Linked DNA regions of Homo sapiens. The protein of the gene in region 2 binds, or shares a complex with, the protein of the main gene of each other region. Each region holds a gene or a part of one and is shown on either strand. Other genes may lie near its edges.

What was found.
Region 1: TMEM231 (region 2) and CC2D2A share a complex: the UniProt entries of both Homo sapiens proteins name them as parts of the tectonic-like complex.
Region 3: TMEM231 (region 2) and TMEM216 share a complex: the UniProt entries of both Homo sapiens proteins name them as parts of the tectonic-like complex.
Region 4: TMEM231 (region 2) and B9D2 share a complex: the UniProt entries of both Homo sapiens proteins name them as parts of the tectonic-like complex.

The regions. Positions count from the first base shown.
Region 1 is NC_000004.12:15,597,590-15,602,598, reverse strand, and holds the end of CC2D2A (coiled-coil and C2 domain-containing protein 2A), read right to left. Parts: intron 3,071-5,009; coding exon 2,893-3,070; intron 1,363-2,892; coding exon 1,174-1,362; 3' UTR 1,047-1,173; downstream 1-1,046. UniProt on the Homo sapiens protein: Component of the tectonic-like complex, a complex localized at the transition zone of primary cilia and acting as a barrier that prevents diffusion of transmembrane proteins between the cilia and plasma membranes.
Region 2 is NC_000016.10:75,552,284-75,561,478, forward strand, and holds the start of TMEM231 (transmembrane protein 231), read right to left. Parts: upstream 3,927-9,195; coding exon 3,788-3,926; coding exon of another isoform or gene 3,691-3,787; coding exon 3,521-3,690; intron 1-3,520. UniProt on the Homo sapiens protein: Transmembrane component of the tectonic-like complex, a complex localized at the transition zone of primary cilia and acting as a barrier that prevents diffusion of transmembrane proteins between the cilia and plasma membranes.
Region 3 is NC_000011.10:61,394,894-61,400,491, reverse strand, and holds the end of TMEM216 (transmembrane protein 216), read right to left. Parts: intron 2,719-5,598; coding exon 2,517-2,718; intron 2,232-2,516; coding exon of another isoform or gene 2,223-2,231; coding exon 2,216-2,222; 3' UTR 1,646-2,215; downstream 1-1,645. UniProt on the Homo sapiens protein: Part of the tectonic-like complex which is required for tissue-specific ciliogenesis and may regulate ciliary membrane composition.
Region 4 is NC_000019.10:41,359,916-41,369,439, reverse strand, and holds the start of B9D2 (B9 domain-containing protein 2), read left to right. Parts: upstream 1-5,290; 5' UTR 5,291-5,482; exon of another isoform or gene 5,483-5,493; intron 5,494-5,514; exon of another isoform or gene 5,515-5,676; intron 5,677-5,916; 5' UTR 5,917-5,920; coding exon 5,921-6,008; intron 6,009-9,524. UniProt on the Homo sapiens protein: Component of the tectonic-like complex, a complex localized at the transition zone of primary cilia and acting as a barrier that prevents diffusion of transmembrane proteins between the cilia and plasma membranes.

The DNA.
Region 1 (5,009 bases), on a different chromosome or scaffold from region 2:
ACCCTGTCTCAAAAAAGTTTATTGAGATGGACTCTACTCCTGGCGAAGATGCTGTGAACATTTGTCAAATGACAACAAAGGATTTAGAATATTACATAAACTTAATTGATAAAGCAGTGGCAGAGTTTGAGAAGATTAATTCCAGTTTTGAAAGAGATTCTGTGGGTAAGATGCTATCAGCATTTCATGCTACAGAGAAATCTTTCATGAAAGGAAGAGTCAGTCAATGCAACAAACTTCATTGTTGTCTTATTTTAAGAAATTCTCACAGCCACCCCAACCATCAGCAACCACCAGTTGCTAATCAGCCAGCAACATCGAGGCAAGACCCTCCATCAGCAAAAAATTACAACTTACTGCAGGCTCAGATGATCATTAGCACTTTTGAACAATAAAGTATTTTTAAATTAAAGGTATGTACATTTTTGAGATAATGCTTTTGCACGCTTAATACACTATAATACAGTGTAAACATAACTTTGCACTGGGAAACCAAAAAAATTGGTGTGACTCATTTTATTGCAGTATTCACTTTATTGCAATGGTCTGGAACCAAGTGCACACTATCTCCGAGGTATGCCTGTACATGCAAACCTGTGGAAGATGAAGTAATCTTGCAGTCTTGGATATTTATTTGTTTTGTTTATTTGGAGAGAGGAGGAGGAGTAGCAATAAAAACTGGTAAACATTCAGTTCAGGCAAATTGTCTTAGTGTTTTCTAAAGATGAAGAATCATTTGATGGAATATAACTCACTACTGCTTTTTATTTCAACTAATATTTGAATTAAACACAGCAAAGGAGGAGGAACTCTAAAGGCTCTAATGATGCTCTCTTTAAAGCTTTACCTTGCTCTAAGGTAAAACTTGTTAAGTTTCTCTCACTTTCATTCCATTGCTGTTAATATTTGCCCAAGCAAAAGGTAAGTAAGTACAAAGGAATAGAGGCAGGAAGCTCATAATATATCGTACTGTGGGTAGTCTCAATTGAATTTCAGGGTCAAGTAGCAGACACAAGGCAGACTGCTAAATAGAACACTTTGCACAGTTTGAAAACAGTTGATAATTTTATTATTTGCCAATAATATGTTCTTCTGATGTGATGCATATAATTTAAAATTTTCTCATATCCTAAGTGTAGTTTTTACATGATACAGAAAGTACAGTGAAAAAAATTACCTGTTGCGTATAAGAGAGGCAACATAGATCCAAACAGACAAAACATTTTTGGGGTATGGGTGTATGTATACAGCTAAAGCAAATTCAACATTAGGAACATCAATATTATGTACTCCAGTACTATACACAGCGTCAATTAAAGGCTTCACTTCAGAATAAGGCATGTGAAGAGGAAATCCAGAGAACTGAAGGGAAAAAACATTTGTAGTCATTAGTGAAGTTTGAAGATTTAATACATTTTTTCCTACGTAAATGTATGCAATTAAGATAAGTGTTCTGGATCTCAGTTATTTGCTTGTGTTTTTCTACTCAGCTTTTTATTAGCAATACAGAAAATCGAGAGCTGCTTAATATCCATTTTGTTTTCCTTGCATATAGGTGTATAAGCCACCTGTTAGTCACTCCATCACTGTTCCCTCTTTTTGAAAGTACCTAGTATGCATCGTAACCATTGTAATTCCAGATACATAGGTTAAACTAACAAATACATTTCTTTTTTCTTTTTTTTTTTTTTTTTTGAGACAGGTCTGACTGTTGTCCATGCTAGACTGCAGTGGCATGATCATGGCTCACCACTGCAGCCTCGGCCTCCTGCTGGGCTCAAATGGTCCCCCCACTTTAGCCTCCTGAGTAGCTGGGACTGCAGGCAAGTGCCACCATCCTGGCTACTTTTTGTATTTTTTGTAGAGATGGAGTTTTGCCATGCTGCCAAGGCTGATCTTGAACTCCAGGGCTCAAGCGATCCGCTGCCTCAGCCTCCCAAAGTGCTGGGGTTACAGGTGTGAGCCATAGCGCCCGACAATAATTTTCGTCCCCTTGGCTACAATGATTGATCCACGGGGATGGGCAAGTGATCAAAGGGAGTCTCAGAGGGAATCTTGGGAAACTTGTTAGGAATAATGGCACGTGATGTTCTCCTGCTTTGGGTAGTATGTGCGCAGATGTGAATTCTGTAAGTGTTCCAGCATTTGCTTCCATGAGGAAACCCAGTCTCAGGATGATGCCATCATACGGAAGAGGAGGGCAGAATGGGAGGACTTGCAAAAGAGTGGGACAGCCCTGATAGCTACCCTCTAAGCTTTACTTAAGCCAGTAGATTCTCTATTGCTCAAGCCTTTTTGAGTTTTCTGACACTTGAACTGAAAATATCCTGGCTGAGAACCTGCCTTATAAGTTAAAGGATAAATTTTACTCAGTGAGTGATCTAATTTGACCTTCACACTGTTTAGCTAGTAAGGCTTACTGTTAAGTTTTAGTTACGAGCCTGCTTTGTAGGTTTTATTATCCAGCTATAGCATGTGAACATAGCAGCAGGCAGTAAAGAGGGTATATCGTCTATTAATAACCACCTTTCTTAGCAATGAAAAGCAATCAGTATAAAACCATATCCTTAAAAAAACTGCTCTAGAGTGTTTTGATCCTTATGCACAGTTGTGTCTAACATGATTTAGCCAGATGTTTTCATTTTTTTGATACGTAAATGTATTTCATAAAAGGTATTTTTCATGGGATACTTATATGAAAAATGGTGGTATTTTGCTATTTCATGATTATTGAGGTTTAAAACTTATGATCACAGTTTTTAGTTTATGCTGCTTTAAATATGTACTTCTGGGAGCAACGTGGGTCTTTTGATTCCAGAAACCTATTATTGGCTAATTTCCAATTTGAAACAAGGAAATCCACAGTCAGTTTAGGATCCATTTGTAACTTACCCTGTAGTCTCCCAGCTGTTTTAGCAGTTCTGCTCTGTGGTCATCTTCTACATCTTCTCCTTGACTTTTTTCTAACAGAGGCAAGAAGTGACGCAGAGTAGAGGTACAATACCTATTCCACCGAGTCAGATGGCGTGGCCTCCAGTCCATGATTTTTTCTTTTAGTATTTTTTCAATCCTGTTCACAAAACATAAATTCCATTTTTTGGTGACTCACTTTTCCCTTGTTAAAAAATGTATGTAGTATGTAGTGGGGATTCAGATGATTGTATAACTATATTTTTGTTGATGGAGTTGTGATTATCCAGGCATAGTTAATGTCTAATAATGGGCTACTCCCTGGGGATTCAAAATTAACATGCAGTCCTGTCCTTAAGGGTTGTATATGAGTTGAGATGGGAAATAGTCCTATAAATAGAAAGTATGTGTATCCTAAGAGCTATAACAGATGCTTGAAATGTAACACAGAAGAGGGAGTACTGAATGACTTGGGGATAGCTGAATTCAATACATGCAGCAAAAGTTTATTATTACTAATTTTTTTTAAAGGCAGGATCTTGCTCTGTTGCCCAGGCTGGATTGAAGTGGTACAATCACAGCTCACTGCATCCTCAACTCTCGGGCTCAAGTGAACCTCCCACCTCAGCCTCTTTGGTAGCTGGGACCACAGGTGCATGCCATTATGTCTGGCTAATTTTTTTTTCTTTTTTATAGAGACAAGGTCTTGCTATGTTGCCCAGGCTGGTCTCAAATTCTTGGGCTCAAGTGATCCGCCTGCCTTGGCCTCCCAAAGTGTTGAGATTACAAGTGTGAGTCACTGCGCTTGGCCATGAAATGTTTTTTTGAAATGTTATGACTATACTCATTGGTAGTATATATACAGACAGATGAATTAGACACAGGCGTAAGAAGTAGGGCTTATGTTGAAAGCCTCAAATATTTGTGGAGCTCTTAGTGCCTCGTGATTTATTCACATCATGAATAGTGAATTCTATCCATGATGATTAATTTTTTTCTAAATTGCCTTAAAACTGCCTTTAAAATACCAACATCATTGAAACTGTTTGTGATAAGTACAGGTATTGGGTTCATAGGGTGTGAAGTTTAAGCATGGAATGAAGGAAGATAGCTACTATTTATTGGGCCATTATTTACCAGATACTGCGCTAAGTGCTTTTTGTAGATGTTTATTTAATCTCAATAATAACCTTACGAGGTAGGGGATATTGTCCTGATTTTACAGATGAGGGGACAGTTTGAGGTAGGATAAGTGATTTGACTAAGGCAAAGGAGCTTGGATTCAAATTGAAACCCTGCTGATTCTAAAGCCTCTTGTACATTGCCTAACTAAATGCATGGGTTTAGAGACCTAGCTAGCTTCTCATTGTTCAGTAGTCATAGGGATCATTTCTTTTTTGGTGCTTAGCACATCTTTGTTTTGGATTTCAAGATGGTCTGCGCACGAAAGTATGGACGAATTGTCAGGCATTTTAATATTGGAGAAATAAATGACTTGGGTCCAATCGATAGCATGTTGAAGCTATCAGAAAAAAACAAAAAGGTTGTTTGGAGATTAGTTGTTCTAGTTGGGGATCTTGAATAAGGCATTATGGAGAAATTGAGAGTAAATGAGTGTAAACCGATATTTTCTAGTAATAATGCCTCAAGAGGGGTCACACAGCTTAATACAGTAGAAATAGTACACATGTCTTGAAATCAGAAAGGTTGGGCTGGGCTCAGAAGCCCCCTTTAACACTTAAACAAGTATGTGGACCTCTCTGAGCCTCAGTTTTCACATTGTGAAACCAGGAGAATAAGTTCTATTTTTACAGGGTTATGAGAATTACAGAGACTCATACAGGCTCTTACTGATCTTCTCCATGTGTTAGGTCCATAAACTAGCTGCAGTTCAATAGGACAGAAGAGGTATATTTAAGCTGAGATTTATGATGTGCCTCAACAACACCTATAACATGATGTTAAACTCCAATCCAAGGTGAAGTCCCTGTAGAAGTACGTATTACTGGTGTTCCACTCTGGTTGGTTCCACAGCATGCTGATGCTAAAGGCTCCTTTTGAGCCATGGGATTTAGAGATCACATCTGTATTTGGAATCT
Region 2 (9,195 bases):
TCTATACTAAAAATACAAAAATGAGCCAGGCGTAGTGGCAGGAGCCTGTAATCCAGCTCCTTCGGAGGCTGAGGCAGGAGAATCTCTTGAACCTGGGGGGCGGAGGCTGCAGTGAGCCAAGATTGCGCCACTGAACTCCAGTCTGGGTGACAGAGTGAGACCCTGTCTCAAAACAAACAAACAAACAAACAAACAATTCATAAAAGAAACTAAAAGCCATTGGTCTGGGCCCTTAAGCAGACTTTGAAATTATGGAGAGCTTTCCTGTTTTTAAAAGCCTCTCAAACTTTCCCTTACTTGCTCTCCATTCAATTCAGGGGTTAAAAAAATGTTCTACTACTGTCTCTGGGGTTTCCTCTGAGGTTGCTGATGCCCCTTCTTTTTAATTGCATTTTTATTTTTCTAACACCTACCTCTTACACAGAAATGATGCCCCTTCTGCATGTTTTGATGCCGGCACAGGTGTAAGCAATGAGAACTATGCCATACCTGCCTCCTTGCCAACAGTTGATAACCACAGACAGGAAGACACTGATTTCAGGGATGAGAAGAAACAGGTGTCTTAGAAACACGGTACTCTCCACTCATCCTCTGGAATCCTTCTATAACCTTCAGTCCCTGTATTCTCTGGGTCCACACATGCCTTCAAGAGCTATGTCAGCCTCCTTGAGGCTTGAGGGGGAAAAAGTCACTCTGCTTTTCTCTTCTCTCATTAAAAACAACAAAAACTAGACTTCCAAAGCATTAAACATGTAGGGAGCTTAGAGACGCTGTCCAGGATGAGCTGACCAAAGCAGAAGCAAGGCTGTTTGTGACTTCAGCATTTCCCCCAATTAGCCACTGCAAAGCCACCTCCCAGCACTTGGTCCAACCTTAATCAACAACCACTGTTTCCTTTGCCTTCTGGACAGTTTCCTGGATAGACTGACGTCAGTCTGGCTCTATGTTCAAAGTTAGAAAATAAAAGTAGTTTGTTGCAATAAGGGCTAAGATTTTAAGATATAGCATAAGAAATACTGAGTTCCAGTCCAGACTCTGTTCACTTCAAAGCAGTGGCTCACACCTGTAATCACACCTGTAATCCCAGCTCTTTGAAAGGCTGAGGTGAGTGTATTACCAGAGTTGAGGAGTTCTAGACCAGCCTGGCCAACATGGTGAAACCCTGTTTCCACTAAAAAACACAAAAAAGTTAGCCCGGAGTGGTGGTGCATGCCTGCAGTCCCAGCTACTTGGAAGGCTGAGGCGAGAGGATTGCTTGAACCCAGAAGGCAGAGGTTGCAGTGAGCTGAGATTGTGCCACTGCATTCCAGCCTGGCTGACAGAGTGAAACTCTGTTGCAAAAAAAAAAAAAAAAAAGAAAAGAAGAAAAGCTAGGGCAAATTGTACCACTTCTCTATTTCTTTTTAATTTTTTATTTTTTTGAAATGTGGGGTCTTGCTATGTTGCCCACACTGGCCTTGAACTCCTGGGCTCAAGCAATCCTCCTGCCTCAGCCTTCCAAAGTGCTAGGATTACAGGTGTGAGCTATCATTTCTGGCGGCAAATATTTTTATCTCATTTACCTGATCATTTAGAAATGTATCTCCAGGTCTTGAGATAACATTTGCATTGAAAATTCTCAGTTTCTCAGTTTTAGGCATTCTCTATTGAGTTCCCACAAGGAAAGATGATTTAGCTTCTTCTCTCCCCCAATTCCTCCCACCATCCCCTATCACATACCCAATACCTTTCTCATTACCCCCAATAGAGTTAAAATCTCTTTTTAGTAAACATTCAGTGTTCATATAATTAAGACTATGTCAATCCTATTCACAACTCTGATAACATTTTGGTTCTCAGTTTTCCTTACTTTTCATTTCCCTGCAGTTAATAATTATTTGCTTAGTTTTCTATGTACTTATACCATTTCATCAAAGAGCTGCTATTCCAATTCCTCAAAATTTGATGTTTAAAGGCATAAGATTTAGTCAAAACCTTGTTCATTGAAATATTGTCCCTAGGCCGGGCACAGTGGCTGACACCTATGATCCCAGCAGTTTGGGAGACCAAGGCGGGTGGATCACCTGAGGTCAGGAGTTCGAGACCAGCCTGGCCAACATAGTGAAACCCCTTCTCTACTAAAAATCCAAAAATTAGCCTGTAATCCCAGCTACTCGGGAGGCTAAGGCACGAGAATTGCTTGAACCCAGGAGGCAGAGTTGCAGTGAGCAGAGAATTGCAGCACTGCACTCCAGCCTGGGCAACAGAACAAGACTGTGTCTCAAAAAAAAAAAAAAAAAAGAAAAGAAAAGAAAAAAGAAAAGAAAAAAAGAAATGTTGTCCCTAATAGTGAAAAAGTCAAAGCAAACCTCAAAAAGAATACAGCTGATTAATAAGTATTGATACATATACAAAACTGAGCCTTCAATTTCTGTCATTATATCTACCTGTAACTCTATCATATTTTAGAATGAGCATGCACTTTTGTAATCAGAATATAAGAACATTTATAAAGTAATAGGAGAAAAGTAACCTGAATCATATTAGGTTGGTGCAAAAGTAATTCCGGTTTTTTGTCATTACTTTTAATGGCAAAAGCCGCAATGACTTTTGCATCAACCTATTACTATTTTTTTTGCAGTTATTTATACGACCAATCGGATTTTTAAAAACAATTTTATTTAGTTGCTGGGAACAAGTCTGATTTTCTTTTCTCCTCAGCTATACAAGGTTGGCTTGTAGGGCAATCATCTTAGATATGTCTGAAGAGATTCGAATTTGAAAGAAGGAAAACCAGAAGTTTCATACTTCTAAAGGAAAACGTTTTCAGAAAATGAGTGAAAAGGAGTGACTACAAAGGAAGCATTCGCTTATCTCAAAGCAAATACTAAATTACAGATTCCTCTCAGCGCTCTACTGGTGAAAAAATTTAAAAATAAATAAATAAATTACAGACAGTAACATGCTTCCATTTCATCCCGACAGCTTCAGGATGGCGCAGTCTCCAATGGGACAAACCCAGGGAGGCGTGACTCGGCCACAGCGCGTTCTGGGAAGGCCGCTTAACCAATCAGCGCCTTGGTTTCCAGGGGTCAGGTCTGCATAAAAATGCTGCCCTTTCCGTTCCTATAGTGGTGTGATGCAGAAACGCCGCGACAGAATGGGGTTATCTACATTAACAGCGCGCGGCCTTCCAGGCTCCTAAATGGACTTTCACAAACACCCTCCATCAGGCCAGGCCCGCGGGTGTGACCCGGGCAGACACAGGCTGCCCCCACACTTCTGGACTCTGTGTCAGGGCGCACACGCTGACAGCATGGCTAACTTTCTGGGGGCCGGGGACATCTGGGAGAAGCAGAATGAAACAGAAGATCGATTCCCTAGGTCCTAGGAGATGAAACGCCACCTTTGCGGGTTCGCGAGTCCTTAGGATCAAAGCTGGGCTCCCCAGGGCCGGGGCCGCTCGCCCCACATCCTCATTCCAGTCCCCATCCCCACCCTATCCCCGACTCTGCCCCAGGCCCAGGCGGGAACCACGCACCGAAACGAGCGGGACGCGCAGGCGATCCCCTTGCAGCCGGTTGAAGGCGGGGAACGTGCTCCAGGCGAGGAACCCGTCGCTTTCGGGTCCGAGCAGGGCCACGAGCAGCACCTGGTGTTGGAAGCGCACGGTCGGCTGCTCCTCGTAGCTGCTCCGCTTCAGCCAAAACCCTGAGTTAAAGAGGGCGGTAGGGAGGCGGTTAGGGAGGCCGGCCCTGGCCGAGCGCGCCCGGGGAGCCTCGTGGCACAGCGGCCGGGGCAGGCTCACCGTGGCTCCGGAAGGCCACCAGCAGCGGCGGGATGTACGTGAGCGCAGCGGCCAGCAGCAGGAACAGCGCGGCTTTGGAGCAGAGCCCCGCGCGGTAACTGCGCTCGACCGGGTGAGAGAAGAGCTCATAGAGCGCCATGAGCACCGCTCGCAGGCACTCCGCGAGCCGGGGGACCAAGTTTGGCTTCTCCTGGTTGCCATCGCCTCGGTCTCCACGGCAACCGACGGCTCACAGAAAGGAGCCAATAGCAAGGCCGCACCGAAAGGAGCCAGTGGCGGGGGCGGGGTTAGCGGGCGTGGCGCTGCCGGGGACGGTCGGCCTAGCTTTTCGAGCTGTGTACGTTTGCGTAAAGGCTGGGCGGCGATAGAACGTTTCCGTGGACCAGAGTCGTGGCTGTTGTCTGTGTTAACATTTGTGTAAAATAAGATGCCCATAAAAGTTGACTTGAACACTGAGGAGGAAGAACTAAATATTTAAATTTCAACTGACATGGACACAAACAATGGTCACCAAGTCCCTAAACAGGTTGTGGGAGCCCCTTGAGGCGTTCATCCAGCGCTGTTTCGGAGAAATCTCTATTTCAGTCTACTCCTATACGTCAGTTATTGAAAAACAACAATCGCAAAAACAAGTTGACCTTTTTGTGTTCCTTGAGCCCAGTCGCAAAGGGCCCTCGTGACTGGGCCTCATGCTAGACAACATGTTACAAAAAGATCTAGGGTCCCAGACCACGCCAAAAAGCTTCATGAGACCTCTCCTCGTCTGTGCACTGACGAGTGGCCGGCTCTGGAGCCCAGGTCGTTGCTTCCCAGTCTGGAGGTGAATCCTCCATAGTCTGGTGAGTGTAAATATATATATATATATGTCTTTTTCCTTCTCCTCTTCCCATTGCAATTTGCTTATTATATCAATCTGCTTATTATATTAATTTGCTTATTATAATATCTGCATTGCCATTTACGTGGGATAAAGCTTGCTTACCCTTAAAGGTACTGTGTGTGTGCCTTTTCTTCTCCCCTAGCGCGTCTCCCGCACAGAACGAACACCTGCTTTTGTGTCATCTGTTAACCCCCAGTGTGGTTCCTACTGAAGTCCAGTCAGTCACAAGCCTGGCCGTGGTCCTGGACCTGGTCCTGGGCTGAGATCAAAGCCAGGTGCTTTTGCCCCCAGATTTTCTGTTGCTTCCACTATGCTCCCATGCAAGACAGACACGGAAACACAAATCCCCTGGCTCTTCCACGGATAGAGTGGAATTACTACAAAGCTCTGATGCACTTCGTTAACCCTGTGTTGGGTACAGCTCAGCCGCGAGTTTTACAGGAATATATGGTCCTCCCCAAAGATCACTGGCTTATTGCTTAATTGAATGCCTACACCCCCCCGCCACCACCCCCAACCAATATTTCTAACATGGTAGAAGGACTTTTTAAAAAAATCTATGGTCCACAGCCAATTTCTTCATCAAATGGCCCTGAATGGCTGGGCACGGTGGCTCACGCCTGTAATCCCAACACTTTGGGAGGCCAAGGTGGGCGGATCACCTGAGGTCAGGGGTTCAAGACCAGCCTGGCCAACATGGTGAACCCTCATCTCTACTAAAAATACAAAAATTAGCCAGGCATGGTGATGGGCACCTGTAATCCCAGCTACTCTGGAGGCTGAGGCAGGAGAATCGCTTGAACCCGGGAGGCACAGATTACAGTGAGCGGAGATCACACATTGGACTCCAGCCTGGGTGGCAGCGAGACTCCATCTCAAACAACAACAACAACAACAAAAAGGTCCTGAGTGGCTGAGCACAGTGGCTCATGCCTGTAGGTCCAGCTACTCGGGAGGCCTGGGCAGGAGGAAGGCTTGAGCCCAGGAGGCTGCAGTGAGCCATGAATGCACTACTGCACTCCAGGCTGGGAGACAGAAGGAGACCTTGTCTCTAAAAAAATAAATACAAAATATTTAAATATAAGTAAATTTGTTAAAGGGTCAGTAAAATGACATTTAAGTGGAAAGACATGATAAGCTTTGTGATTTGGAAAAGTCACTCTAATGACAGCATGTCAGTAGTGTAAACCAAAATGTATCTGAGACAAGTCTCAATCAACGTAGAAATTTATTTTGCCAAGGTTAAGGACATGCCTGTGACACAGCCTCAGGAGGTCCTGATGACATACGCCCAAGGTGGATAGGGTATAACTTGAGTTTATACATTTAGGGAGACATAAGACATCAATCAATACGTGTAAGATGTACATTGGTTCAGTACTGAAAGATGAGACAAGTGGAGGTGGGGTGGGGCTTCCAGACCACAGAATTGGCAGATTCAGAGATTTTTCCAATTGTCAACTGGTTATTATCTAAAGACCTGGAATCAATAGAAAGGAATGTGTGGGTTTGTGGGCGGGGCACAGTGGCTCACGCCTGTAATCCCAACACTTTGGGAGGCCAAGGCAGGCAGATCACTTGAGGTCAGGAGTTCAAGACCAGCCTGGCCAACATGGTGAAACCCTGTCTCTACCAAAAATATGTATTAAAAAAAAAAACATTAGCTGCATCTGGCGGTGTCCACCTGTAATCCCAGCTACTTGGGAGGCTGAGGCAGGAGAATTGCTTTAACCCGGGAGGCAGCAGCTGCAGTGAGCCGAGATCATACCACTGCACTTCAGCCTGGGTGACAAAGTGAGACTCCATTTCAAAAAAAAAACAAAAACAAAAAACAATAAGGGGTTGTGGAGTCTAATGTTTTATCATGCAGATGAAGCCTCCAGGCTTCAGAGAGAACAGATTGTAAATGTTTCTTATCAGACTTTAAGAGTCTGTTCTATTAATATCAGTCTTAAGATCTATGTGTTGATGCTAATACTGGTCAGCTGGGTCTGAATTCCAAAAAGAGGAGGGTATAATGAGTTACGTCTGACTCCCCACTTCCCATGATGGCCAGACTAGTTTTTCAGGTTAACTTTGGAATGCCCTTGGCTGAGACAAGGGTTCCATTCAGATGGTTGGGAGCTTAGAATTTTATTTTAGGTTTACAGTATACCAGGATGGGGTCATTGAGTGAGGGGTGAGGAAAAACAGAAGTCAGGGAGACCAGTCAAGAGGCTGTTGAGGCTGGGTGAAGTGGCTCATCTTAGCACTTTTGTCAGAGGTGTTTGAACCAAAGCAACTCCATCTCGAATAGGGGCTAAGTAAAATAAGGCTGGGACCTACTGAGCTGTCTTCCCAGGAGGTAAGGCATTCTTAGTCACAGTATGAGCTAGAAGGATGGCACAAGATACAGGTTACAGAGACCCTGTGGATAAAACAGGATGCAGTTAAAAAGAAGCCAGCCAAGGCCGGGCATGGTGGCTCATGCCTGGAACCCTGTCTCTACTAAAAATACAAAAATTAGCTGGGCATGGTGGCGGGCACCTGTAGTCTCAGCTACTCTGGAGGCTGAGGAGGGAGAATCAGTTGAACCCGGGAGGCGGAGGTTGTAGTGAGCCGAGATCACGCCATTGCACTCCAGCCTGGGTGATAAGAACGAAACTCTGTCTCAGAGAAAAAAAAAAAAAAGAAAGAAAAAAGAAAAAAAGCCAGTCAAAAGCCACCAAAACCAAGATGGCCTTGAGTGTGACCTCTGGTCGTCCTCACTGCTCATGATCTGCTCATTGTAATGCATTGGCATGCTAAACGATACTCCCACTGGTGCCATGACAATTTACAAATGCCACGGCAATGTCCGGAAGTTACCCTATATAGTCTAAAAAGGGGAGGGACCCTCAGTTCTGGGGAAATCTCTGCCCCTTTCCTGGAAAAGTCAGGAATAATCTACCCTTTGTTTACCATATGGATCAAGAAATAACTATAAATTTACTCAGTCGAGTAGCCCATACTGCTGCTCTGTCTATGGAGTAGCCATTTTTTTTTACTCTGTGGACTTGCCCCAAATTCTTTCCTGTGTTGAGAGCCAGGAACCCTTTCTTGGGATCTGGATTGGGACCCCTTTCCAGTAACACTTTGGGATGCTAAGAAAGGAGGATTGCTTGAGCCCAAGAGTTAGAGGTTGCAGTAAGCAGTGACTGCACTACTGCACTCTAGCCTGGGTGACAGAGCGAGAGCGAGACTGTCTGAAGAAAGGGAAAAAAAAAAAAAAGCCCTGAAGGATCACATTGCAGTGTCAGGAGATGGCGTGAGGTTTGTGCTGGGTGGAGTCCAGTAGTTACTCCCACTACTTTGAAAGCAACCTCGAAGTGGCTTTTAGATGAAGAGAACAGCTGACATCCTAACATCACAGACTTAATAGAGAGGTCAAGACTGCCCATTTGGGAAAACCATCCTAGGGTCCTTACTACAGTCCAAGACGACAACGTCATCAGCCACAAAATGCTTTTGAAATATCAGGTTCAATACTACTTGTTCTTGATTAAAAGCTTTTCTGGGGTGGCAATGTAGTTTGTTGTTGTTGTTGTTTTTATACAGGGTCTCCCTCTGTCTACCTCCTGGGCTCAAGTACTTGTCCTGCCTCAGCCTCCTGAATAGCTGAGGCCACTATTCCCGGCTAATTTTTAAAAAAATTTTTGGCTGAGGCAGGACAATCACTTGAACCCGGGAGGTAGAGGTTGCAGCGAGCTGAGATCGTGCCACTGCACTCCAGCCTAGGCGCTTCCATCTAAAAAAAAATTTTGTTTTTAAGTGACAAAGTCTTGTCATGTTGCCCAGGCTGGTCTCCAACTCCTGGGCTCAAGTATCCTTCTTGAGTAATCCCAAAGTGCTGGGATTACGGGTGTGAGCCACTGTATCTGGCCTCAACATAGGTTTTTGTTCGTTTTTGTTTTTTTGGTGGAGATGGGATTTCGCCATGTTGCCCAGGCTAGCAGGTTGATCTCATATTCTGGGGCTTAAGAGATCCACCTGCCTCGGCCTCCTGAAGTGCTGGGACCACCACACTGAGCCTCAACATAGTTCTTAAATATAGCAATTGTTAAGGTTAAATCTATGGTTTGATTCTGACACACTATATCTATGCTTTAAGTGGATGACTTTCTTTTTTTGAGAGAGAGAGTTTCACTGTTGTTGCCCAGGCTGGAGTGCAATGGTGTGATCTCGGCTCACTGCAACCTCAGCCTCCCAGGTTCAAGCGATTCTCCTCTCTCAGCCTCCTGAGTAGCTCGGATTACAGGCACCTGCCACCACGCCCAGCTAATTTTTTGTATTTTTAGTAGAGATGGGGTTTCACCATGTTGGCCAGGCTGGTCTCAAACTCCTGACCTCATGATTCGCCCACCTCGGCCTCCCAAAGTGCTGGGATTACAAACGTGAGCCACCACGCCCAGCCGACTTTCATTTATTTATATAACCACAGGGGTCTTCTGGAATAGATGGATCTAGGGTCGACTCCTGAGAGTCACTATCCTGTGAGGAAGGAAGTGTT
Region 3 (5,598 bases), on a different chromosome or scaffold from region 2:
AGGGGTAGGAAACAAGAAAAAACATCAGTGCTTTGGACAGCAGAGCCCCTCAGGATAAGAATGAGCTTGATCATAGAAAGTAAGAGTTAAAGCCAGCATAGAATGCTTAAAGTTACATTTTACTTCGAGTAAGAGCAGATAATCTAGGATTCATCTGAAAACAGAAGAGCCTCAAGGTTTTCTGAAGTGGATTCCGTCATGGCTCCTCGTGGCTTCTTGGAATTAAAAAACATGGCCACTACCAAGGAAATGAGGAATAATTTTAAAGATGCTTACTTGGAGAAAGAAAGTATACATTGATCTAGAGTGACAGTTCTCCAGCTTAAAAAAAAAAAAAAGTGTTCCTTTTATGTTGACTCAAAATTTTATTTTTGAGACAGGGTCTCACTCCTGCACAGGCTGGAGTACAGTGGTACAAACATAGCTCACTACAGTCTTGACCTCCTGGGCTCAAGCTATCCTCCTGCCACAGCCTCCTGAATAGCTGGGACTACAGGTGCGCATCACCACACCTGGCTTGTTTTTAAATTTTTTGTAGAGACAAGGTTCTCACCATATTACCCAGGCTGGTCACAAATTCCTGGAATCATGCAATCCTCCTGCTTCAGCCTCCCAAAATGTTGGGATCACAAGTGTAAGCCACTGTGCCAGGCCTCAAAATACTAAAATAAATGACCAAAAAAAAAAAAAAAAAAACATCAGCTGGTTGCAGTGGCTCACACCTATAATCCGAGCACATTAGGAGGTAGAGGCGGGAGGATCGCTTGAGCCCAGGAGTTACAGACCAGCCTGAGCAACAAAGACCCCATCTCTACAATAAATACAAAAATTAGTGGGCTGGGCACGGTGGCTCATGCCTGTAATCCCAGCACTTTGGTAGGCCAGCAGGCAGACCACGAGGTCAGGAGTTTGAGACCAGCCTGGCCAGCATGGTGAAACCCCGTCTCTACTAAAAATACAAAAAAAAATTAGCCCGGCATGGTGGTGCACACCTGTATTCCCAGCTACTCGGGAGGCTGAGGCAGAAGAATCACTTGAACCCAGGAGGCGGAGGTTGCAGTGAGCCGAGATCATGCCACTGTACTCCAGTCTAGGTGACAGAGCGAGACTCCGTCTCAAAAAAAAAAAAAAAAAGCCAGGCATGGTGGTGTGTGCCTGTAGTCCCAGCTACTTGAGAGGCTGATGTGGGAGGATCACGTGAGCTAGGGAGGCAGAGGTTGCAGTGAGCCAAGATCATGCCACTGCACTGCAGCCTGGATGACAGACTGAGACACTGTCTCCAAAATTAAAAAAAAAAAAAAAGTTAGTTTAGAATATGCTTCTTCCAGTTTCACATGGCCCACTGGAAAAAAGCTAACAATTATCTGTAAGAGGAGTGAGACAAGATGCTGACTTTGGGGCAGAGTGAAGCAAATAAGCAGTCTTTTGCATGACGAGAGACTTGAAGATACAGAGGATGGCAGTGCATTTAGGGTTTAATTTAGGCTGCAGCTTGGGGAAGAAAATCAGTGGTCATCACTGCCTTTTGTCCACACTGTATCACTAAGCAAAGCTCCTGAGAACAAACTGCTGGGATAGTCATGACCCTCTCTTGGAGTGGATGAATTCTAGGGACAGGTGCCATAAGGAAAGGCTGCAACCCCCACAACAGAAAATACATATTTATTATAAAATAAAGTTAGTTTCATGAAGAGAGTAGAAAAATAACACTATGAGCTACTAAAAAAGTTGTGGAACTCAGTCTCCGAGGATTGGGGTGAGAGGCTTTCACATCACTCTGGAAACCCACCAACATGAGGCTCTCCGTGCTCATGTGGGACAGGTATAGCACAGCTCGTACAGGGAGCATGTGGCTCAGGTCCTGCTTGAAGCCCAAGGAGCCTAGATGGTCCACACGAGATGCTCTGGCCACGGTGATCAAGGAGGAGAACTTGAGGTCAGCAGGGGACTGGTTCTGAGAAGGGGCAGGATGGGAATAACCTTGCCCCTCCCTATACTGGAGTGTAGAAGAGTCTCTTGGGCTGATGGTCCTGGTTTAGAAGATGGTACCCACTGGCCTTATGCTGAGTTGCTTGCCCAAATGTCTGTGCTGAAGAAAAGCCACACAGCCTTTCTCAGGACAACTTGCCCCACCAATTCTCACTGGTGTGGCTAAAGTACCAGAAGCAATATGTGTGGTGTCAGCCTGATGGGCTGCTGGCTGAAATTCTGTACTTCAAATCCTGTCCATACGATGGCAGAAAGAAAGAAAATGTTAAAAGACCAGTGAATGAGAGCAGCTGGCCTCGACTGTTCTATATTCCAAGCCTCCTGGCCCCAAAGGATAGGGAGAGTATCTTCCCTGAGTGGGAAACGATCTACCTACCCTAAACAGGAAAGGCAATCCCATAGCCACCCCTTCCTCCCTCTAGAAAAAAGTCTTCTAGACCCCTTAGGCTTCAGAAGAATACTGAATCCCTCCCTGGGATGGGAACCCAACCCTCTAGTGATGAGAAATGGTCCCTCAGCAGCAGTACCTGGAGAAAGCAGCCAAGGTGAGCACCTCAAGTAAAAGCTCTGAGCCACAGAAGAAGAGCAAGATGCCATTCATGATGGCTTCCAGGCGGAGTACGTAGGTCTGCAGCAGCAGGTAATAGGAGGCCATCATGGCAGATGGGAAGGTCAAGGCCACGCTAATACTGAGCGGCATCTTTCGCTGGCAGAGGTTTCCCTTTGTACCTGTCAGACACAGCCCATGGAGTCATCTCCAAATGGTCTGCTTTTCCTGGCCCAGGGGAAAGGCGTGGGAGATGTGATGGAATGGCAAGGCACAAAAAATAATCCTGAGTGGGGGTGTGCAGATTTATAAATGGGGTCCCACTGTACTAAAAGTTTGAGGCTTAGGAGAGCTACAAGATTAAAGTCACTTAATCCAGAGGTCCTGCTTCCAGTCTGGTTCCCACTCAAGGGACAATGGGATCTTTATTTGGGAAAAACAAAATTTTTAATTATAAAAATAATATATAATCATTTAAAAATTTTCAATGGCCGGGTGCAGTGGCTCACACCTGTAATCCCAGCGCTTTGGGAGGCCAAGGCAGGTGGATCACAAGGTCAGGAGATGGAGACCATCCTGGCTAACACGGTGAAACCCCATCTCTACTAAAAATACAAAAAAAGTAGCCGGGCGTGGTGGCGGGCGCCTGTAGTCCCAGCTACTCGGGAGGCTGAGGCAGGAGAATGGTGTGAACCCGGAAGGTGGAGCTTGCAGTGAGCAGAGGTCACGCCACTGCACTCCAGCCTGGGGAACAAAGCAAGACTCCGTCTCAAAAAAAAAAAAAAATTTCAACACAGAAAATAATTTTTGAGACTATAGAAAGTGAAAGACCTCCATGTCCCTACACCCTGAAGATTATTAGAGAATGACGTGTATTGTTTCAGATTTTTTATACGTATATATTCACATATTACTATTTATTATTATAAAAATAGAAGCATACCCTACATCCTGTTTTGCAACTTATTTTTCCCCCACAAACATTTTTCCACACACATAGCTACCTTAATTTTTTTTTTTTTTTGATAGTGTTTAATTCTGTCACCCAGGCTGGAGTGCAATTGCATCATCATAGCTCACTGCAGCCTCGAACCCCTGGGCTGAAGGGATCTTCCCACTATAGGTACACGTCACTATGCCCAGCTAATTTTTTTTTTTTTTTATTGAGACGGAGTTTCTTGTCACCCAGGCTGGAGTGCAATGGAGCGATCTCGGCTCACTTCAACCTCCACCTCCCAGGTACAAGCGATTATCCTGCCTCAGCCTCCCAAGTAGCTGGGATTACAGGTGCCCGCCACCATGCCCAGCTGATTTTCGTATTTTTTAGTAGAGACAGGATTTCACCATGTTAGCCAGGCTGGTCACGAACTCCTGACCTCAGGCAATCCGTTCGCCTCGGCCTCCCACAGTGCTAAGATTACAGGCGTGAGCCACTGCACCTGGCCTTAACTGTTCTTTTTAATTTTTTTTAATTTTTTGAGACAGAGTCTAGCTCTCTCGCCAGGCTAGAGTGCAGTGGTGCAATCTCGGCTCACTGCAACTTCCGCCTCCCGGGCTCAAGTGATTCTCCTGCCTCACCCTCCCGAGTAGCTGGGATTACAGGCACGTGCCACCACACCCAGCTAATTTTTGTATTTTTAGTAGAGATGGGGTTTCATCATGTGGGCCAGGATGGTCTCGATCTCCTGAACTCGTGATCTGCCTGCCCCAGCCTCCCAAAGTGCTGGGATTACAGGCGTGAGCCACCATGCCCAGCAACTGTTCTTTTTTAATGGTTATATACAAGTCCGTTGAATCAGTGCCGTAACTGATTTAACAATCCCGTATGGACAGATGTTTAGTTTGTTTACAGTGTTTTGATGTTACCAAATTTTTGGCAATAAACATTCTCATATAGCTATCTTCGCATATCTGTGGAATTTTTTTTTAATCTAGTTTTAGAAGTGAAATTGTTGGGGCTAACAGTAAAACATTACACAGTAATAACTACTACCCAAGAGTTGTACTAAATTAAATTACCACAAAAGTGTATAACAACCTGTTCCCCACACCCTAATACTGGGTGTTATAAATCTTTCTTTGCCAGTCTGATGGGTAAAAAATGTTACTTTGTTTCAATTTGATTTTTATTAGCGAGTTTGAGCATCTTGTCAAGTTTTACTGGTTCTCTGTAATTATTTTTACATGAACTGCCATTAATGTCCCTTACCAATTTTTTTTTTTTTTTGAGTCTCACTTTGTCGCCCAGGCTAGAGTGCAGTGGGCGATCTTGGCTCACTGCAACCTCTGCCTCCTGGGTTCAAGCGATTCTACTGCCTCAGCCTCCCAAGTAGCTGGGATTACAGGTGCGCGCCACCACACCCAGCTAATTTTTGTATTTTTAGTAGAGACGGCCACCATGTTGGCCAAGCTGGTCTCAAACTCTTCACCTCAAATGATCCACCCACCTCGGCCTCCCAAAGTGCTGGGATTACAGACGTGAGCCACTGCGCCCAGCCAATTTTTAAAGTTATTTTGTTTTTTCCTTAGTGATTTATGTGAGCCTTCTTTTATCCTTTCTTATATGTTGCAAGTAATTTTGTTCCTAAGTTTGTGCTTTAACGTTGATTTCAGGGATGACATATTCTAACAAATAAGGGTTTTGCTCTGTATTTCTGGGGTTATAAAACTTGTCCTACAGGCCAGGCATGTTGGCTCACGCCTGTAATCCCAGCACCTTGGGGAGGCCAAGGCAGGAAGATTGCTTGAGGCCAGGAGCTTCAGACCAGCCTGGGCAACAAGGCAAGACACTGTCTCTACAAAAAACACAAAATTAGCCAGGTATGATGTCGCACACCTGTGGTCCCAGCTACTCAGGAGGCTGAAGTTGGAGGACTGCTTGAGCCCAGGGCTTCAAGGCTGCTGTGAGCTATGATCGTACCACTGTACTACAGCCTAGGTGACAGAATGAGACCCTGTCTCAAATAAATAAATGTTTAAAAAACAAAATCTGGCCAGGTGTGATGGCTCACACCTATAATCCCAGCACTTTGGGAGGCCAAGGCGGGTGGATCATGAGGTCA
Region 4 (9,524 bases), on a different chromosome or scaffold from region 2:
GACTTCCTGCACTCAAGGCATCCTCCGGCTTCAGCCTCCAAAGTAGCCGGGATGGCCAGGCGCGGCCATACATGGCAAAACCCCATCTCTACTAATTAGCTGGGCGTGGCGGCAGGTGCCTTCAATCCCAGCTACTTGGGAGGCTGAGGCAGGAGAATCACTTGAACCCAGGAGGCAGAGGTTGTGGTGAGGAGAGATCACACCATTGCACTCCAGCCTGGGCAACAAGAGTGAAACTCTGTCTCAAAACAACAACAACAACAAAAATGAAGTAGCCGGGACCGCCGGCTGTGTGCCATACTTGGCTTAAAAGCATTTTGTTTTTGAGACAGGGTCTCACTCAGTTGCCCAGGCTGGAGTGCAGTGGCACAATCACAGCTCACTGTAGCCTCCAACTCTCAACCTAAGCGATCCTCCCACCTCCGCCACCAGAGTAGCTGGGACTACAGGGGCATGCCACCACACCCAGCTAATTTTTTGTATTTTTTGTAGTGATGGGGTTTCATCATGTTGTCCAGGCTGCTCTCAAACTCCTGGATTCAAGCAATCTGCCCGCCTTGGCCTCACAAAGTGCTGGGATTACAGGTGTGAGCCACTGTGCCCAGCCCCATATTCTATTGGTTAGAAGCAAATTACAAAAACTAGCCATACTGAAGGGAAGGAGAATTAGGCTCCACTTACTGAAAGGGGGCTGCCCAAGCATTTGTGGATATATTTTAAAACAGCTTCAGGCCGGGCACAGTGGCTCACACCTGTAATCCCAGCACTTTGGGAGGCTGAGTCAGGTGGATCACTTGAGGTCAGGAGTTCAAGACCAGCCTGGCCAACATGGTGAAACCCCGTCTCTACTAAAAATACAAAAATTACCCGGGTGTGGTGGCACATGCCTGTAATCCCAGCTACTTGGGAGGCTGAGGCAGGAGAATTGCTTGAGCCTGGGAGGCAGAAGTTGCTGTGAGCCCTGGCCCACAGAACGAGACTCTGTCTCAAAAAAACCCAATAACCACCCCCCCCAAAAAAAAGGTGACAGGTTTTCACTCTGTCACCCAGGCTGAAGTACCTTGGCATGATCACAGCTCACTGCAGCCTCAAACTCCTGGGCTCAAGGGATCCTCCTGCCTCAGCCTCCTAAGTAGATGGGACTGCAGACATGTGTCACCATGCCCTGCTATTTTTTTTTTAAACGTTTTCGTAGAAATGAGGGTCTCACTACGTTGCCTAGTCTGGTCCAGAACTCCTGGCCTCAAGTGATCCTGTTGCTGTGGCCTCTCAATGTGCTGGGATTACAGACAGCCATGAACCACCAGGCCTGGCCAACTTTCGATAATGTGGTTAGATAATTCAAACTTAAAGCTGTTGGAACTTTAAATTATTCCAAGCCTTGAGAGGAATGTTGCTATGTAGCCTGAGTCACGTAGCATGCAGTTACAACTTCTGCTTTTTCCTGTAAATGATTAAGAATGACCAAGCAGTGCCAGAGATAAGATCACCTCAGAACATTACTCCTAGGCCGGGTGTTGTGGCCTCACATCTGTAACCCCAGCACTTTGGGAGGCAGAGGTGGATCACTTGAGCCCAGGAGTTTGAGACAAGCCTGGGCAACAGAGTGAGACCATGTCTCTACAGAAAAAATTATTGAAAAATTAGCTGGGCATGGTGGCACACGCCTGTAGTCCCAGCTACTGGGGAGGCTTAGGCAGGAGGCTTGAGCCTGGGCGTTCGAGGCTGCAGTGAGCTGTGATTGTGCCACTGCACTCCAGCCTGGGTAACAGAGCAAGATCTGTTTGTTGTTGTTTTGTTTTGTTTTTGAGACTTTGTCTCACTCTTGTCCCCCAGGATGGAGTGCAATGGCACGATCTCAGATCACTGCAACCTCCGCCTCCCAGGTTCAAGTGATTCTCCTGCCTCAGCCTCCCGAGTACTTGGGATTACAGGCGCCCGCCGCCATGCCCAGCTAATTTTTGTATTTTTAGTAGACACGAGGTTTCATCATGTTGGCCAGGCTGGTCTTGAACCCCTGACCTCGTGATTTGCCCGCCTCAACCTCCCAAAGTGCTGGGATTACAGGCGTGAGCCACCGCGCCCAGCCCCAGAGCAAGATCTTATCTCAAGAAAAAAGAAAGGAGAAAGAAAGAAAGAAAGAGTACTCCTCCTCCTATCAGAATGTTAACGCAATCTTCCCTGCAGCATAGCAAGATGTACTAATGAAACTGTTGTAACATATGTACTGGTCCTGTAGCCTGGAATAAACTCTATAGTTAATCATATTTTCCTTTCTTTTCTTTTTTTTCTTTTTTGAGAGTAGAAGTCTGGCTCTGTCGCCCAGGCTGAAGTGCGGTGGCGTGATCTCGGCTCACTGCAACTGCTGCCTCCCAGGTTCAAGTGATGCTCCTGCCTCAGCTTCCCAAATAGCTGACACCACAGGCATGTGCCACCACACCCATCTAGTTTTGGTATTTTTTAGTAGAGACAGGGTTTCGCTATATGTTGGCCAGGCTGGTCTCGAACTCCTGACCTCAGGGTATCCACTCTCCTTGGCCTCCCAAAGTGCTGGGATTACGGGCATGAACCACCGAATCCGGCCTCAATCATATTTTCTGAATCTCATTATTTATAGTTGACGATAATTTATTTTCTTTTATTTAACATGTATACATGGGAGCCTTCAGAATGAAGACCTCAGCCGGGAGCAGTGGCTCATGCCTGTAATCTCAGCACTTTGGGAGGCCAAGGTGGGCAGATCACCTGAGGTCAGGAGTTTGAGACCTGCCTGGCCAACATGGCGAAACCCCGTCTCTACTAAAAATACAAAAATGAGGCAGGAGGTGCCAGCCAGGTTGTGGAGAGCCTTGTCATGCATGATAAGACTTTGGCTTTTACCCTGAGTGAAATGGGGACCACTGGACGGGTCTGAGCAGATGGGACCTGACTTAGGTGTTCACAGGGTTCCAGCTGCATGTGGGGTGCAAACTAGAGGGGTTGGCAAAGGGGACCCCAGAGACAAGGTCCCTGTCATAGTCCAGGTGATAGATGAACTTGGACAGATCAAGGTGCAGGGCGACAAAGAGGTGAGAAGTGGGATTTAGGGTGTATTTCAAAAGTAGAGGCAGTAAGATTTCCTGATGGACAAAATGGGGGCTTGAGAAAAGAGAATGCAAGGCTGGTGCCACCACTAGGGGACCAGGGGCCCCAAGAGCTGAAAGGTTAGAGCTGTCTACCTCACCCACACAGCATCCAGAAATAAATAAATAAATAAATACATTTTCCCCAGCTCCAGCTTAAAGGACAGAAAGATCATTTAAAAGTGAAACCTCTGCCAGGTGCAGAGGCTCACTCCAGCCTGGGCAACAGAGCAAGATTCTGTCTCAAAAAAAAAAAAAAAAAAAAGTAAATAAATAAAATAAAAAAGAAAATACAAAAAGTAGCTGGGCCCAGGCGAGGTGGCTCATGCCTGTAATCCCAGCACTTTGGGAGGCTGAGGCAGAAGGATCACATGAGGCCAGGAGTTCGAGACCAGCCTGACCAACATGGTGGAACTCCATCTCTACTAAAAGCACAAACATTAGCTAGATATAGTGGTGGGTGCCTGCAATCCCAGCTACTAAGGAGGCTGAGACAGAAGAATTGCTTGAACCTGGGAGGCGGAGGTTGTGGTGAGCAGAGATCATGCCACTGCACTCCAGCCTGGGCGACAGAGGGAGACTCTGTCAAAAAAAAAAAAAAAAAAAAAAACCCGGCCGGTCACGGTGGCTAACGCCTGTAATCCCAGCACTTTGGGAGGCTGAGGCGGGTGGACCACCTGAGGTCAGGAGTTTGAGACCGGTCTGGCCAATATGGTGAAAACCCGTCTCTACTAAAAATACAAAAATTAGCTGGGTGTGGTGGTGCACGCCTGTAGTCCCAGCTACTCGGGAGGCTGAGGCAGGAGAATCTCTTGAACCCGGGAGGCAGAGATTGCAGTGAGCTGGGATCGCACCACTGCACTCCAGCCTGGATGACAGGGGGAGACGCCATCTCAAAAAGTAAAAAACCAAAATTATAACGAGGGTACAACATTTCAATAGGATAACATTTATATTAAACAATTCAATGGAATACTTCACTAGTTGATATATGCATTATTAATGGGGTCTCCCTATATTCGAACTTCTGGCCTCAAGAGCTCTTCCCGCCTCAGCCTTCCAAAGGGCTGGGATTACAGTTATGAGCCACCGCGCCTAGCCAATGGTAGCTTGTAAATACTTTGTATCTATTGGCCTGGCTGGGTGGCTCACGCCTGTAATCCCGGCAGTTTGGGAGGGAGAACTGGGAGGATAGCTAGAGCCCAGGAGGTCAAGACAAGACTGGGCAACATAGCAACATAGCAGGACTCCATCTCTTAAAAAAAAAAAAAAGAATTAGCCAGCCGTGGTGGTGCATGTCTGTGATACCAGCTACATGGGAGGCTGAGGTAGGAGGATCCCTTGAACCCAGGAGTTAAGAGGCTGCAATGAGCTGTGATCGAGCCACCGTACTCCAGCCTGGGTGACAGAGTGAGACCCTTTTAAGGAGCCTTGATGGGACCTGATGACTGGCTTGATGTGGGAAATGATGGCATCTAGGATGGCATCCAGGGACAACATCTCCATTTCTTGATTGATAAATCAATCAATAGGAAAGAGGATTTTCTGCAAATAAGGGAATCTTAGTTCCTCATTTCTCTTCGCTACCCCAACCGCTCCTTGCTCAGAATCAAGCAGTAACAGTGAACTTGGTAGTAGCTCCGAGAAGGAAGTTGGACTTATCCAACTTCCTTCCTTCCTTGTCCTTGAGAAACCTAGGGGAACTCTAAAACGGAAGCAGAACCCACTCCCCAACTTCTCCACTCTCTGAATGAGGAGTGATTTTTTTGCTTTGTTTTCCAGTTACAAGGCCGGGGATGTACACGAGGTCCTGGAAGGAATTCCCCCTTGGTCCTGGTTCAATCTCTGATTTGTGATCCCGGACCACAGAGAGCTCTTCGGTGGGGTAGGCGCAGCACGGAGCAGTTAGGGATTTGCTTTTTTGGTAAAGAAGGTATCTGGGAGAAACTGCACTCAAACTTCCTCAGCCACACTCAACATGGCAGCTTCCTAGCCACGCCCAAAATGGCGGAACCCTTTGCCGTAGCTGGAGAGACGCTATTTTCCCAAAATGGAGCGGAGGAGGAAAATGTCCATCACAGCTTCACCCCGCCCCCCGCAGACGGCTAGCACCAATTAGTAGCGCGCAGAGCGAGTACAAAGCTAGGGGAGGAGCCTGCTGTTGCCCCAGCAACAACCACGGAAACCAAGACGAGCGCGGTCGCGGAAGTATCGCGGCTTACATATCTCGCAGCCAGGCGGGTCCTGGGAGAGGCGCGAGCCAGGCCTGGTCGGCGCCCGCGGAGAAAAGAAGCAGTCAAGCCCATGAACTACAACCCCGGTTGCCGCTTTCTCCTCTCCTAACCGTTAAGTGCGCTAAGGTAGGAATGACGCATGCGCTGCGCTTAGAGGCGGGGTTAAGTCGGACCTGAACTCATAACGCATGCGCCTTATGGAGCTTGCTGGGGGAGGGAAGCGGGGTGGCTGGCGTGACGCGGAAGGCGGGTCTTTTGCGCTCGTGGGCGGAGCCATAGCCCCTTCGGGCGGGGCTTTCCGCCGACCTGAACCCGAAAAGGTTATTTTGGACTTCCCAGAGTTAAATGCTGGTTCCCCAGACAAGGGTCCCCCCATTTTTTCCAGGCTTTCATGGGTTGGCAATTAGGATCTGTGGTCAAGACCTCAGCCTCAGGGGTGTGACGAAGCTAGCTTGGAATCCTAGTACTACCCTTTACTTGCTGGGCCTCAGTTTCCCCCCCGTCAAATGGAGATAATACACTTACCTCACAGGGTTGTGATTATATTTTTCCCCTCCCAGGGCCATGGCTGAGGTGCACGTGATCGGGCAGATCATAGGGGCCAGCGGTTTCTCGGAAAGTAGCCTCTTCTGCAAGTGGGGCATTCACACAGGTATTCCCCCAAGCCTGGTTCATTTCCACACCAAGACCCCTAGCCTAGAGGCTACATGCTCCTTCCTCCACCCCTTAACGCAGACTCTTAACCTCATTTCCATCAGTTCTCAGTACTCCAGGCCCAGCCCACACCCTGTCCACATGAGTCTCAAGCTCCCATCTTTGTGTGTGTGAGGGGTGGGATACAGACAGGGTCTCTCTCTGCGCCCGGGCTGGAGTAAGGTGGTGTGATCATAGCTCAGTGCAGCCTCGAACTCTCGGGCTCTAGTGATCCTCCCGCCTCAGCCTCCTGAGAAGCTGGGACTACAGACACGCACCACCAAATCTGGCTAATTTTTTTTATTTTTTGTAGAGACAGGGTCTCGCTATGTTGCCCAGGCTGGTCTCGAACTCCTGCGCTCAAACAGGCCACCCACTTCAGCCTCTCAAAGTGCTAGGATTAAAAACGTGAGCCGCCACGTCCCAGGAAAGTAATTTTGTTCATGCTTCCCCAACTGAGGCCCTATAGAGTCATGGTATAGTGTAATGGTTAGGGTCATGGGCTGCCAGATCTGCATTTAAATATTAACTCCCCCACCTATTAATTGGAGACCTTTGGACTCGACCACTTTGAGCCTCAGTTTCCTTGTTTCAAAGTGAAGCTAATAGTAGCTAAGAAGCAGCACAGGTTTGAGGTTAAGAGCACAGACTGCCTGGGTTCAAAACCAGTTATTGCTTGTTAAGGCACCCTTGGGCTGATTATGTGAACTTGGGCACTTCTCTTCACCTCGACTTCCTTGTTTGTACAATGAGAGTCATAGAAATATTTACCTGTTGAAGTTGTCATGAGTACTAAACGAGTATCAACAGCACTTAGAATAGGAATAGGGCTGGAATAGGAAGTGCTCATTCAGTGTTTGCCTGGCTTATACAAGACTTTGATGGGGTCTTGTTTGTAAAGCCTGGGGTATGTTGTTGCGTGGCACAGATGAATGTCTATGAAACAGATGTGGCCATTTGGCATTATCATGTCTTCAGGCCTGAGTCCTAGTCCCTTTTTTTTTTTTTTTTTTTTTTTTGAGACTCGTTCTGTTTCCCAGGCTGTAGTGCAGTGGTGCAATCTAGCTCAGCCTTCCAGGTTCATGCCATTCTCCTGCCTCAGCCTCCTGCATAGCTGGGACTACAGGCGCTCGCCACCATGCCCGGCTATTTTTTTTTTTTTTGTATTTTTAGTAGAGATGGGGTTTCACTGTGTTAGCCAGGATGGTCTCGATCTCCTGACCTTGTGATCTGCCCATCTCGGCCTCCCAAAGTGCTGGGATTACAGGCGTGAGCCACTGCGCCTGGCCCTTTTTTTTTTTTTTTTTTTTTTGAGACAGAGTCTCACTCTGTAGCCAAGCTAGAGTGCAGTGGCACGATCTCGGCTCACTGCAATCTCTGCCTCCTGGGTTCAAGCGATTCTCCTATGTCAGCCTCCCGAGTGGCTGGGACTACAGGCACCCGCTACCATACCCAGCTAATTTTTGTATTTTTAGTAGAGATGGGGTTTCACCATGTCGGCCAGGCTGGTCTTGAACTCCTGGCCTTAAGTGATCCGCCTGCGTAGGCCTTCCAAAGTGCTGGGATTACAGGCGTGAGCCACTGCGCCTGGCCCTTTTTTTTTTGAGACAGAGTCTCACTCTGTAGCCAAGCTAGAGTGCAGTGGCACGATCTCGGCTCACTGCAATCTCTGCCTCCTGGGTTCAAGCGATTCTCCTATGTCAGCCTCCCGAGTGGCTGGGACTACAGGCACCCGCTACCATACCCAGCTAATTTTTGTATTTTTAGTAGAGATGGGGTTTCACCATGTCGGCCAGGCTGGTCTCGAACTCCTGGCCTTAAGTGATCCGCCTGCGTAGGCCTTCCAAAGTGCTGGGATTACAGGTGTGAGCCACTGCGCCTGGCCCCTGGGTCCTTTTTGATTCTACAGGTAAGTGAGGTGGAAGTTGAAATTCCCAGGAAATCGGAACCCTCCAGCTGATGGATGAGGGGCAGGCTCTGGAGTCAGACTTGGTTTCCAGGTTGGACCACTCACCTTCTCTGTGACCCTGGGCAGAGGCTGTCCCCTCTTGGAGCCTCAGTTTCCTCATTTGTTCTTCATAGGGCTGTTGGGAAATCTTGCTTTTAAGGAGCCTGACGCAGGGCCTGGTGCTTCCCTCAACTCAGCCCAGAAGGGAGTAATGACTAACCTGATTTTTATTATTTCAGGGAGTTGCTGGGGATGTTGATCCAGCCAAGAATACTGAGGCAGTTGGATGAAAGGCTTGGGCTCTGCAGTTAGAGCTGAGTCTGAATCCAGTCCCATGATGGGACCTTGGTCTGCTATAGTCACTGCTATGTCACCAGCATGGAAAACAGTGCTTGGCACATAGCAGGTGCTGAATAAATGTTCATGAACTCACCTTCTCAGAGCCTGTTTCTTTACCTGTTAAATGGGGATTATATTAGCTCCCACCTCCTAGGATCACTTATTTGTCCAAGAAACATTTATTGAGCACCTTCTGTATACCAAGAGCTGGGTTTGTGGTCTTGGGGATCCAGCAGTGTGCAAGGTCCCTGTTTTCCTGGGCCATACAGTAGGGGAGACAGAAAATAAATAAGCAGGCCAGGCGCGGTGGCTCATGCCTGTAATCCCAGCACTTTGGGAGTCCGAGGCGGGCAGATCACCTGAGGTCAGGAGTTTGAGACCAGCCTGGCTAACATGGTAAAACCCCATTTCTACTAAAAATACAAAAAAAATTAGCTGGGCATGGCGGCGTGTGCCTGTAATCCCAGCTACTCGAGAGGCTGAGGCAGGAGAATCGCTTGAACCCAGGAGGCGGAGGTTGCAGTGAGCCGAGATGGTGCCATTGCACTCCAGCTTGGGCAACAAGAGCAAAAGTCTGTCTCAAAAAAAAATAAATAAAATAAAATAAATAAACAGATAAACGAGTGCAGTTGGGTGTGGTGACTCACCCCTGTAATGCCAGCACTTTGGGAGACTGGAGCAGGAGGATCACTTGAGCCCAGGAGTTTGAGACCAGCCTGGGCAACATAGTGAGACCCCCGTCTCTACAAATAAATAAAAAATTAGCAAAGCATAGTGCTGTGTGCCTGTCGTCCCAACTACTTGGGAGGTTGAGGTGGGAGGATTGCTTGATCCTGGGAGGTCAAGGTTGTAGTGAGCTGTGATTGTGCCACTGCACTCCAGCCTGGGTGACAGAGGGAGATCTTGTCTCCCCCCACCCCCCCAAAAAAAGAAAGGAGCACCGTGATTCCAGACAGTGGTAAGTGCTAGGATGAAAAGAAATGATGTGGCAGGGACTAGTGTTTGGTGAAGAGGGTCAGGGAGAACCCCTCTGTGGAAGTGGCACTTGAGCTGGGCCCTGAAGGATGAAAACAAAAGCTAGGGATGGGGACACCCAGGAGCAGAGCTTTCTAGGCAGAGGGAACAGCCAGTGCAAAGGCCCTGAGGTGGGGAGTCAGAAGTGGGACAGTGAGGCCAGAGGGTGATGAG